3 linked regions of the Homo sapiens genome follow. The protein of the gene in region 1 purifies or fractionates together with the protein of each later gene. This does not show direct contact. Each region holds a gene or a part of one and is shown in the gene's direction. Other genes may lie near its edges.

The links.
Region 2: the proteins of SLC29A2 (region 1) and ACAD9 purify together in Homo sapiens (affinity purification with mass spectrometry; one large-scale study listed by BioGRID and IntAct). This does not show direct contact.
Region 3: the proteins of SLC29A2 (region 1) and EIF3CL purify together in Homo sapiens (affinity purification with mass spectrometry; one large-scale study listed by BioGRID and IntAct). This does not show direct contact.

The regions. Positions count from the first base shown.
Region 1 is NC_000011.10:66,365,327-66,368,844, reverse strand, and holds part of SLC29A2 (equilibrative nucleoside transporter 2), read left to right. Parts: intron 1-173; coding exon 174-308; intron 309-975; coding exon 976-1,073; intron 1,074-1,296; coding exon 1,297-1,381; intron 1,382-2,280; coding exon 2,281-2,414; coding exon of another isoform or gene 2,415-2,613; coding exon 2,614-2,719; intron 2,720-2,823; coding exon 2,824-2,909; intron 2,910-3,518. UniProt on the Homo sapiens protein: Bidirectional uniporter involved in the facilitative transport of nucleosides and nucleobases, and contributes to maintaining their cellular homeostasis. Functions as a Na(+)-independent, passive transporter.
Region 2 is NC_000003.12:128,910,571-128,913,713, forward strand, and holds the end of ACAD9 (complex I assembly factor ACAD9, mitochondrial), read left to right. Parts: intron 1-170; coding exon 171-243; intron 244-1,936; coding exon 1,937-2,037; 3' UTR 2,038-2,544; downstream 2,545-3,143. UniProt on the Homo sapiens protein: As part of the MCIA complex, primarily participates in the assembly of the mitochondrial complex I and therefore plays a role in oxidative phosphorylation.
Region 3 is NC_000016.10:28,379,761-28,383,408, reverse strand, and holds part of EIF3CL (eukaryotic translation initiation factor 3 subunit C-like protein), read left to right. Parts: coding exon 1-291; intron 292-2,617; coding exon 2,618-2,777; intron 2,778-2,875; coding exon 2,876-2,941; intron 2,942-3,029; coding exon 3,030-3,117; coding exon of another isoform or gene 3,118-3,144; intron 3,145-3,195; coding exon of another isoform or gene 3,196-3,231; exon of another isoform or gene 3,232-3,270; coding exon 3,271-3,433; intron 3,434-3,528; coding exon 3,529-3,611; 3' UTR 3,612-3,648. UniProt on the Homo sapiens protein: Component of the eukaryotic translation initiation factor 3 (eIF-3) complex, which is required for several steps in the initiation of protein synthesis.

The DNA.
Region 1 (3,518 bases):
CCTCAGAAGAGGACTGAATAGCGGGTGTTGCCCCCGAGTGCTCAGAGTCCCTAGGGAAGCTCACACCTGCGCAACCTTGTCCAGAGTCCCCTGTGTATCCTGCCGGCACCTCCTCCAGGGAGCCTCTGAGTCTTGCCTAGTTGAGCAGCAGCCCCCATCCCTGTCCTCCACAGCCTTCAGTGCAGTCCTACAGGGCAGCCTCTTCGGGCAGCTGGGCACCATGCCCTCCACCTACAGCACCCTCTTCCTCAGCGGCCAGGGCCTGGCTGGGATCTTTGCTGCCCTTGCCATGCTCCTGTCCATGGCCAGTGAGTGCACTTGGGTGGCTGGAGGGCTGGGGTGGCCTCTGAGGTTTGGGGAAGAGAGAGGGCATGTGAGAGCAAGACACATGGGTTCTGGGTGAAGATGGAGGTAAGCAGGTGATATGGAAATGGGGATTGGGTCTGGGGCTAGGGAGTGGGGCTCATGGGCCCTGCAGTGAGGAGTAATAACCAAGTGAGGACTGGGTTAACTCAGGGACAGGGGCAGGATTCCTGGGGCTAATACTGGCATGTGGCAGCAGGTTGAAGTTGAAGGATAAGGGGATGGGTTTGGGATTCAGATAGTCTTGGGTTTGAATCTGCTTCACCGCTTACCAGCTAGGGGTGTTGGACAAGGCTTGTCACCTCTCTGTGCTAGCTTCCCCACCGACGTGATTGGTATAGCTCCCTGCTCAGATTGTAATGAGCATGCAATGAGAGAAGGCTACTGGCACATAGTACGTGCTCAACAAAAATGACACATGGGGAAAGTGAGAGAAGTGCAGGGCTGCTCTGGGGCCCTGTACAAGATTCCCATTTGTCAGTGAAGGGAGGAGCGGAAGAGGCTGGGAGTGGGTCTGAGAAGTACACAATGGGAAGTGGGACAAGAGTTGGAAGCCCCGTGGGAGCCGGCGGGACCAGGTGCCTCTCTTCTGCAGCTGAAGTTCCTCCGCAGGTGGCGTGGACGCCGAGACCTCTGCCCTGGGGTACTTTATCACGCCCTGTGTGGGCATCCTCATGTCCATCGTGTGTTACCTGAGCCTGCCTCACCTGGTGAGCCTGCTGTTGGGCTCGAGGCCCCACCTCAAAGCATCTTGGATAGAGTCCTGAGCCTGAGGCCCTGAGAGAGGCCAGGGGAGGTGGAGGAGACCTGGTCTCAGCCCTGACCCCCAGAGAAGACACTGAGGGGCCCCAGCCTCCAGGCCAATGGTATGGGGAGGGATCCAGACACCTCAGGCAAGCCAGGCAGGCCCAACACTTTCCTGTCCTTCTGCAGAAGTTTGCCCGCTACTACCTGGCCAATAAATCATCCCAGGCCCAAGCTCAGGAGCTGGAGACCAAAGCTGAGCTCCTCCAGTCTGGTAAGCCCTGAGACCCTCCTGGGGAGGTGGGAGATGCAGAGGAAGCTAGAGCCACCTCCCCTGGGAAGCTGTTCCATCTGTTCCCAGCCAGAGCCCACCCCTAGTAGCCTTGTGCAAACAGGAAGATCATGAAGGGAAGTTGGTAGGATTAAAGTCATCCCTGCTGTTGTTTGGGCCTCAGTTTCCACCTCTATAAAATGGGGAGGCGACAGAGGTTCCATGCATGCAAACTTTGGATCCGAAGACCTCTGAATTGGAATACTAGTTTCACAACATCCCAGCTGTGTGGCCTGAGACAAACCACTTAGCCACTGCACCCCTCTGAACCTCAATGTGTCATTTGTAAAGCAATGGTAATGAGATAATCCATCTAAGGTGCTTCGCTCATCACCCGACCCATGCACGCGCTTCCTGGTAGCTATGCATATTTCCATCATGAATTCCCTTCGCCTGCAGCCTCAGCTTAGGCTGGAGGAAGATCACCTTTTTTTGTTTTGGGGTGAGGGGGTTGTTGTTATTTTGAGTCAGGATCTCACTCTGTCACCTAGGCTGCACTGCAGTGCTATCACAACTCAACTGCAGCCTCGACCTCCTGGGCTCAAGTGAGCCACCTCAGTCTCCCGAGTAGCTGGGACTATAGGTGCAGGCTGCCATGCCCGGCTAATTTTTTTATTTTTGTAGAAATGGGGATTCACCATGTTGCCCAGGCTGGTCTCGAACTCCTGGGCTCAAGCAATATGCCCGCCTCGGCCTTCCAAAATGTTGGGATTACAGGCGTGAGCCACCATGCTGAGCTGAGGATCACTTGTTTTAACTGCTGGGAATCTCCCTTCGTTGGGCCTGGCTGTCGGGAAACCTGGGTCACAAGCATGACCCTTCCCCGTCCCCCCTCACCCCAGATGAGAACGGGATTCCCAGTAGTCCCCAGAAAGTAGCTCTGACCCTGGATCTTGACCTGGAGAAGGAGCCGGAATCAGAGCCAGATGAGCCCCAGAAGCCAGGAAAACCTTCAGTCTTCACTGTCTTCCAGAAGGTTTGGCTTGGATACAGCCCCCAACCACCATCTTTGGGGAAGAATGGGGCTCACATTGACTCCAAGGTCATAGGGTCACAGTGGGTCAGGGACACAGCTGGGCCAGGCCCCAAGTGTCCTGCTCCCACATGGGGCTTGGGCAAGAGGGTGGGGCCCTGGGACTGCCCTGCCTGCTCACACCCCTGCCTCTGGCTCCCAGATCTGGCTGACAGCGCTGTGCCTTGTGTTGGTCTTCACAGTCACCCTGTCCGTCTTCCCCGCCATCACAGCCATGGTGACCAGCTCCACCAGTCCTGGGAAGTGGAGTGAGTGTCAGGGTGGAGAAGACGGCAGGGCAGGGGGTACAAAGGGGAGAGGACGGGAGAGGGGAGTTGGAGACCAGTATGAGCTGCAGCCGTTTCCCTCCCAGGTCAGTTCTTCAACCCCATCTGCTGCTTCCTCCTCTTCAACATCATGGACTGGCTGGGACGGAGCCTGACCTCTTACTTCCTGTGGGTAAGCACACCAGGGCTGGGTGATCCGATGTTTTAGGAAGCAGTTTGGGATCCGAGGGCTTGAAAGAGCATGGAGGTGATTTTCTGGTAGTCCAAATGGCCTGGTAATGCAACCACTGGCCAAGCAGCAGGGAGCACTTGGGCCCTGGAGGCGTGCAGGCCAGGGCTTGCACTGTGAGCTCCCTGAAAGCAAAAATCATGTCCAGCTGACCTCTGTGTCCCCAGCATCCAGCCTTTGCTGCTCAGAGAATGTTACATGGAGGTTCCTGCACCAGGTGAGGGACTGAGCAAGAGTCTTAGTTTTGGGGTTGGTTTTAGCCATGGTACTGTATCTTTAAATGAAATCTTCCAAAGAGACAATACATAACGCAGGTGAAAGAGGAGCTGGTCTCATCCAAGTCAGGACAGGAGCTGATCTACAGCTTCCAATCCCACTCAGAAACCCCATCTGCCCCCAAGGGGGTCTGTGGAACCACCAGTGGGTGCTCTGAGGAACCGAGTACGTAAACTGTAGATGCGGTGGAGAGCACAAGCTGGAGCCTGGGAGAGGCAGAGGTGAGCCCCAGGCCAGTCCCTGATTTCTGGGTGGACTTGGCCCAGGCCCCAGTGC
Region 2 (3,143 bases), on another chromosome or scaffold:
AAAGGCTGTTGGATCAGGGCTGGAATTAGAACCCAAGACGGGGTGACTCCTGTGCCAGGCCTTGTGACCCCTGCCATGCTACCCAGTTTGGCTGATAGGCTGGGTTTTTGAAGCTCAGAGGTCTGATTCCAGGAATTTGGGCATATCTTTTCTGTCCTCGGTTCTGGCAGGTTCTCTTGGCCAACACCTTCTGCGTGGAAGCTTACTTGCAGAATCTCTTCAGCCTCTCTCAGCTGGACAAGTGTGAGTGGCATGTCTTGGGGGAGGGAAGGAAGGGCCCACTTCTAGGCCCCTATTGATGGTGAGCTGTTTCTGGACCCTGTCAAGCTCCCAGAGCCTGCTAGCTACTCACAGACCTCTGCCTTGAGCGAGGGCCTGGGTAGGCCTGGGCTTAGCTGCAGCAGTGCCCACCAGGCACTGTAGGTGCATACCTGCCCCATTCACCAAGGCAGTTGTATGTATATATGTGTGTGTGTGTATGTATGTATGTATGTATTTATTTCGAGATGGAGTTTCGCTCTTGTTGCCCAAGCTGGAGTGTAATGGCGCAGTCTTGGCTCCCTGCAAACTCCACCTCTTGGGTTCAAGCGATTCTTCTGCCCCAGCCTCCCGAGTAGCTGGGATTACAGGCGCACGCCACCACGCCCGGCTAATTTTTTGTATTTTTAGTAGAAACAGGGTTTCACCATGTTAGCCAGGCTGGTCTCCAACTCCTGACCTCAGGTGATCTGCCTGCCTCAGCCTCCAAAAATGCTGGGATTACAGGCATGAGCCACCGCACCGGGCCTGCCAAGGCAATTTTAGATTGAGCAAGTGCAGAGCCCTTTGCGCAGGACCCCTGGCATCTGCCCAGCATGCCTGGCTGTATTCTCTTTTTTTTGGAGACATAGTCTCACTTTGTCACCCAGGCTGGCTGGAGTGCAGTGGCATGATCTTGGCTCACTGCAACCTCCACCTCCTGGGTTCAAGCAACTCCTGTGCCTCAGCCTCCTGAGTAGTTGGGATTATAGGCACGCACCACCATGCCCAGCTAATATTTGTATTTTTAGTAGAAACAAACAGGGTTTCACCATGTTGGCCAAGCTGGTCTCCAACCCCTGACCTCAGGTGATCCGCCCACCTTGGCCTCCCAAAGTGCTGGGATTACAGGCATGAGCCACTGTGCCCAGCCCTGGCTGTATTCTTGAAGCTGCCCGGGGAAGGCTCACGAAGGGAGGAGCATCTGGTTGTACCTGATTCTGGAGACAGCATTTTACCTGCCCCTTTACCCACTGTACTCCATCCAAAATGACCCTGCAGTGCCCTGCAGAGGTCTCAGGCCTTGGCCTAGAGAACAGAGGGCTTTGCTCGTGCTCCCCGCTCTGTCTGCAGTGCTCTTCCTCTTCTATAGCCACTCGACCATATCTAGGAATGCCCAGCTCAGTCTACCTCTGACCCTCACAGTCCTGTTGACCTGAGGTTCTGGATCAGTGTCCCCACAAAGCCCAGTCGTGTTGCCAAGTGATGGGTGTAGGCGCCAGCACTGTGGCACTTGCTGAGAGTGGCATATGATTTTTTGCAGGTCCTAGCCCTGGGGGTAGCCCAGACACCCCCCCAGTGCTGACAGGTTATGTGCTGTGGAGGGTGCTGAAATGGTTTCTCCTCCAGTGGGCTGGAATCACAGATGGGCTGTTTACGGAGCAAGTGCCGGCTCCACCCCATGAGATCTGGGGGTTAGAGATGAGCAGGATGAGTCCTTTGTAACTGAGAATGAAGCTGTACCCCTTTCTCTCCCTGCAGCCCTGAATCACTTGCTGGGGGTCTGGAGGAGGGGTTCACCCTTAGGGCTGCTTCATGGTGGGTGGGCTGACTTTGTGGAAAAATGCCCCCACTTCAGCCATGTTTGTCTTATCACGGTGCAGAAAGATCACCCACCATCTCTCCTTTTCCTTCCCAGATGCTCCAGAAAACCTAGATGAGCAGATTAAGAAAGTGTCCCAGCAGATCCTTGAGAAGCGAGCCTATATCTGTGCCCACCCTCTGGACAGGACATGCTGAGGCAGGGGACAGTGTCCCCTGCTACCGCCCGCCCCTACCCATGGCCCGTTGCTGGATGACTGTTACTCTTTTTTCAGAAGGTGTTGGGATTATCACAGGTTAAGCCTTTTGTTCCCCGTCTGCACCTGAAGGGTTGTCGCCTGGCCTGGGAGAGCCTCTTCCAGGTTTTGACCTGCAGGCAGTGCTCTCTAACAGGACCATCACAGCTTCTGAACTGAGCCGGAGAGAGAGAATGGAATTGCTGACCCCTGGAACTGGCGGGTATTCTGGTCATTGAGGAGACACCATAGTGGAAACTGGGGCTTATGCTGCTGCCTCCAGGGTGTGAGGTGGGTGGGGACCTGTGTCAGGTGTGGATAGCCATTTCTGCTCAACCACACATTCTCTAAGAAACAGCTTGAAAGCTCTGTCTGGGTCATTCATTTAAACTAGAAGCAGAGGCACTTAAAACATGTACCAGGAACCATTTAACAAAGAATATAAAATGTCACAATCTGTGTACTGTTAGCCTTTGCTGTACTTGTCACACTGTTCCTTAGAACCAGCCTTTAATGGGTGACAGCAGGACCCTGAGAACCACCCTTTGGTGATGGCCTCGGGTCCCCTTTGTCCTCACCCTGCAAGGAGGGCCCAGAATGCTAAGGAGCAGACACACAGTGCAGGCCACAATCCCTTGGGGTTATGAGCCCTTAGTTTTTATCCTTCTCAGGAGATGATGGGGAGGCTGTCTCAGCTGATGATGTTCCCACCTAGGGACTTTAGTTTCTTTACAAGAACTGGCTTCTACTCTTGAGGAGAGGATGAATGGTATCTCCAGGCCAGCAGGCCTTTGCATTTCTCCAGCCTCCCTTCTGCTGGCACTTGAAAGATTACACCAGGTCCCAGCGTGCTCACTGTGGTGAACTTTAAGCTTTGATGTGGTCCTTGGGTGGTCTGGAGCTCTAAAATGCCTATTGTGGACACTCCCTTGAGCACAGAGAAGGCAGCCGACTCTTTTTCCTCCAAGTATATTCCCAATTTACTGTGATGCTGGAAATAGGCAAGGAGGAGACTGGGAACTTGGAGAGCTGAGCTGGCTGAGTGGGGCTGGCCTGAGCATTCTGCCA
Region 3 (3,648 bases), on another chromosome or scaffold:
ACGCCCTGCTGGACATCCAGTCGAGTGGCCGAGCCAAGGAGCTTCTGGGCCAGGGCCTGCTGCTGCGCAGCCTGCAGGAGCGCAACCAGGAGCAGGAGAAGGTGGAGCGGCGCCGTCAGGTCCCCTTCCACCTGCACATCAACCTGGAGCTGCTGGAGTGTGTCTACCTGGTGTCTGCCATGCTCCTGGAGATCCCCTACATGGCCGCCCATGAGAGCGATGCCCGCCGACGCATGATCAGCAAGCAGTTCCACCACCAGCTGCGCGTGGGCGAGCGACAGCCCCTGCTGGGTGAGTGTGGAGCTCCAGGGTTCAGCAGGCTGCCTTGCTCCCTGATTACACATAAGGATTAAGAGAAGTGAAGGGAGTAACTCTCCCACCACTCGACTCCATCTGATTTAATGACACCTCCTCTGCCTGGCACTGTGCTAAGTGTTTTACAAATAATTATTTAATCTGCATTAGTAATAACCCTATGCCGGTAGGTACTAGTAATACCCTTTTTCCCAGTGGAGAAACTGAGGCACAGAGTAGTTAAGTGACTTGCCCGAGTTTAATGCAGCTCATGTGTACCTCTGATCTTTCTTTCCCTTTTCTTCCCTTCATGTACATTATATTCCAGCCAAACCAACTATCATAGAGCCTTATCGTTCAAGAGGCTAACGTTGATTCCTTTGGCCCCTTTTGAAAGACAGATCCTGCAGGGTTGCAGTGAGTGGTGACTCACTGGAAAGGAATTGAGCTGCGCCCTTCCTGTGACATTGGCCCACAGGAGGGCTTGACGAGTGAGCTGAGCCCAGTGTCCACAGCCACATCCCCCTACAGATTTGTCCTCTCCTGGTCATGTATATGTTTGGGCTAAAGGGCAGGTTCCCTTAGGCACATTTTGTTTGGCTTATGTAGTGAGATTTACTTTGTGGGGAAATTTCCCATGAAAATCGGAATTTTCATGTCTTAGAATATTGGCAGTCTGTCGCTCCTGGCCCTGCCTTCCTGCAGAGCTAGCCTTGGCTGGAGCTGAAGTAGCAGCGATGGGAAAGGGCTGTCTGCTTCTCCACAGTCCCTGCCTCTCAATTTCTCCCTACAGTGGTTCCAAAAGCCAGTTTCCATCAGCCCTGCACTGTTGTTCGGCCTATAGAGAAATATTCTTTGAGCCCCTAAACTTGCCTTTTTCTTTCTTTCTTTCTTTTTTTTTTTTTTTGAGACGGAGCCTCACTGTTGCCCAGACTGGAGTGCAGTGGCGCAGTCTCAGCTCACTGCAACCTCCACCTCCTGGGTTCAAGTGATTCTGCTGCCTCAGCCTCTCGAGTAGCTGAGACTACAGGCCCCCGCCACCATGTCCAGCTAATTTTTTGTATTTTTAGTAGAGATGGGGTTTCTTCATGTTGGCCAGGCTGGTCTCGAATTCCTGACCTCAGGTGGCCCGCCCACCTCGGCTTCCCAAAGTGCTGGGATTACAGGTGTGAGCCACTGCGCCCAGACCAACCTTGCCTTTTGCAAGTGTTAATATGGTTAAAATGGAGGTTCATCCAGGAGGGCTGTGTGCCTCTCCTTACACTCTTAACACTTAGCCCTGCTCCTATGGTTCCATTTGGACCTGATCCCCGTTCGCATTGAGCTTGCCGTTCTTGCTGTGGAGTCTGCGTGTTTGTGTTTCACTGTCTGCCACCCATTTCTAGCCGTAGAACTTTTGCACTTTGTCTACCCTGAATTCCAGTTACTATGGCGTACCATGTCTTACCTTCCTGGCTTGTCTTAGGATTGTATTTGGGGGCCTGAGTTCATAATTAATATATAAACTTGTGATTTTAGAGATAATTTTGACCGGGGCTAAGTTTTTTAAGGAAAAGAAGTGAGCTGCTTGGAAGAATAATAAGCTGGCAACAGTGTAATTGATGCATGGGCATGGCACCATTCATGAAGGTGATGTGAGTGAGGAAGGGTTGGTAAATTCCATTCCAGTTGAGCTGGAAGAGGTGGTTTGGTTTTGTTTTGTTTTGTTTTTTGAGACAGAGTCTCGCTCTGTAGCCCAGGCTGGAGTGCAGTGGCAAGATCTCAGCTCACTGCAAATTCTGCCTCCCGGGTTCAAGCAATTTTCCTGCCTCAGCCTCCCGAGTAGTTGGGATTACAGGCGTGTGCCACTATGCCTGGCTAATTTTTGTATTTTTAGTAGAGACGAGGTTTTGCCATGCTGGCCAGGCTGGTCTCCAACTCCTGACCTCAGATGATCCGTCTGCCTTGGCCTCCCAAAGTGCTGGGATTATTACAGGTGTGAGCCACCACGCCTGGCTGGAAGAGGTGTTTTTAGGTCAAGGAAGCTTACGAGAATCTGATGAAAGCCATGGGCCTTTTTCCTAGGAAGAATGTACATGAGGACATGTGCACAATTTGTCAACATTTTTGAGGGTTTCGGCAGTCCCCTGAAGTGCATCTATGGACTGATTGAGTTCAAACATTTGTGCAGATGGAGTGGCTTGGGCGACTACGTGGCTGTTTGGTGGAGAGGCGGGGAGAGTCTCTAGTATGGTTTGCTCCTCCAGCCTCTGTTCCTCCTTAAAGAGTGCTAATGGAACTTGTCCCAAGTTCCCTAGGCCCTGCCTCATTCCCACCCTTTCAGGTCCCCCTGAGTCCATGCGGGAACATGTGGTCGCTGCCTCCAAGGCCATGAAGATGGGTGACTGGAAGACCTGTCACAGTTTTATCATCAATGAGAAGATGAATGGGAAAGTGTGGGACCTTTTCCCCGAGGCTGACAAAGTCCGCACCATGCTGGTTAGGTGAGCAGACAGAGAGGCCGTGATGGGTCGGGGAAGAAGAGACTGGTTGGTCCCCTTCCCTGAGGCCCTGTTGTGTCTTCTGTCCCCTCTTCCCACAGGAAGATCCAGGAAGAGTCACTGAGGACCTACCTCTTCACCTACAGCAGTGTCTATGACTCCATCAGGTAGGCGGGGCCCTGGGGACACAGAAGGGCCCCAGCCTTGTGGGCAAGTGTCCTGACTGCCCCTGCCCTCTGCCTTCTTTCTTCCCAGCATGGAGACGCTGTCAGACATGTTTGAGCTGGATCTGCCCACTGTGCACTCCATCATCAGCAAAATGATCATTAATGAGGAGCTGATGGTAGGGGCCGGGGTGGGAAGCGGGCAGGTGGAGCCATGGAGGGATTGGAGCGTAGGGGCCGGGGTGGGAAGCGGGCAGGTGGAGCCATGGAGGGATTGGAGCAGAGGGGCCTGATCTGTGTCGTGTCCCCTCCTCTGCCTTGGCGCCTGTCAGGCCTCCCTGGACCAGCCAACACAGACAGTGGTGATGCACCGCACTGAGCCCACTGCCCAGCAGAACCTGGCTCTGCAGCTGGCCGAGAAGCTGGGCAGCCTGGTGGAGAACAACGAACGGGTGTTTGACCACAAGCAGGGCACCTACGGGGGCTACTTCCGAGGTGAGTACTTCGGCTCCTCTCCTTGCCCACTCCTGGTGCCCTCACCGCCTCTCACCTGGCATTCCCTGCCCTTCCTTCCCATCTCTCTCCTACAGACCAGAAGGACGGCTACCGCAAAAACGAGGGCTACATGCGCCGCGGTGGCTACCGCCAGCAGCAGTCTCAGACGGCCTACTGAGCTCTCCACTCTGTTTCCCGCCTGGGCCATCCAACCT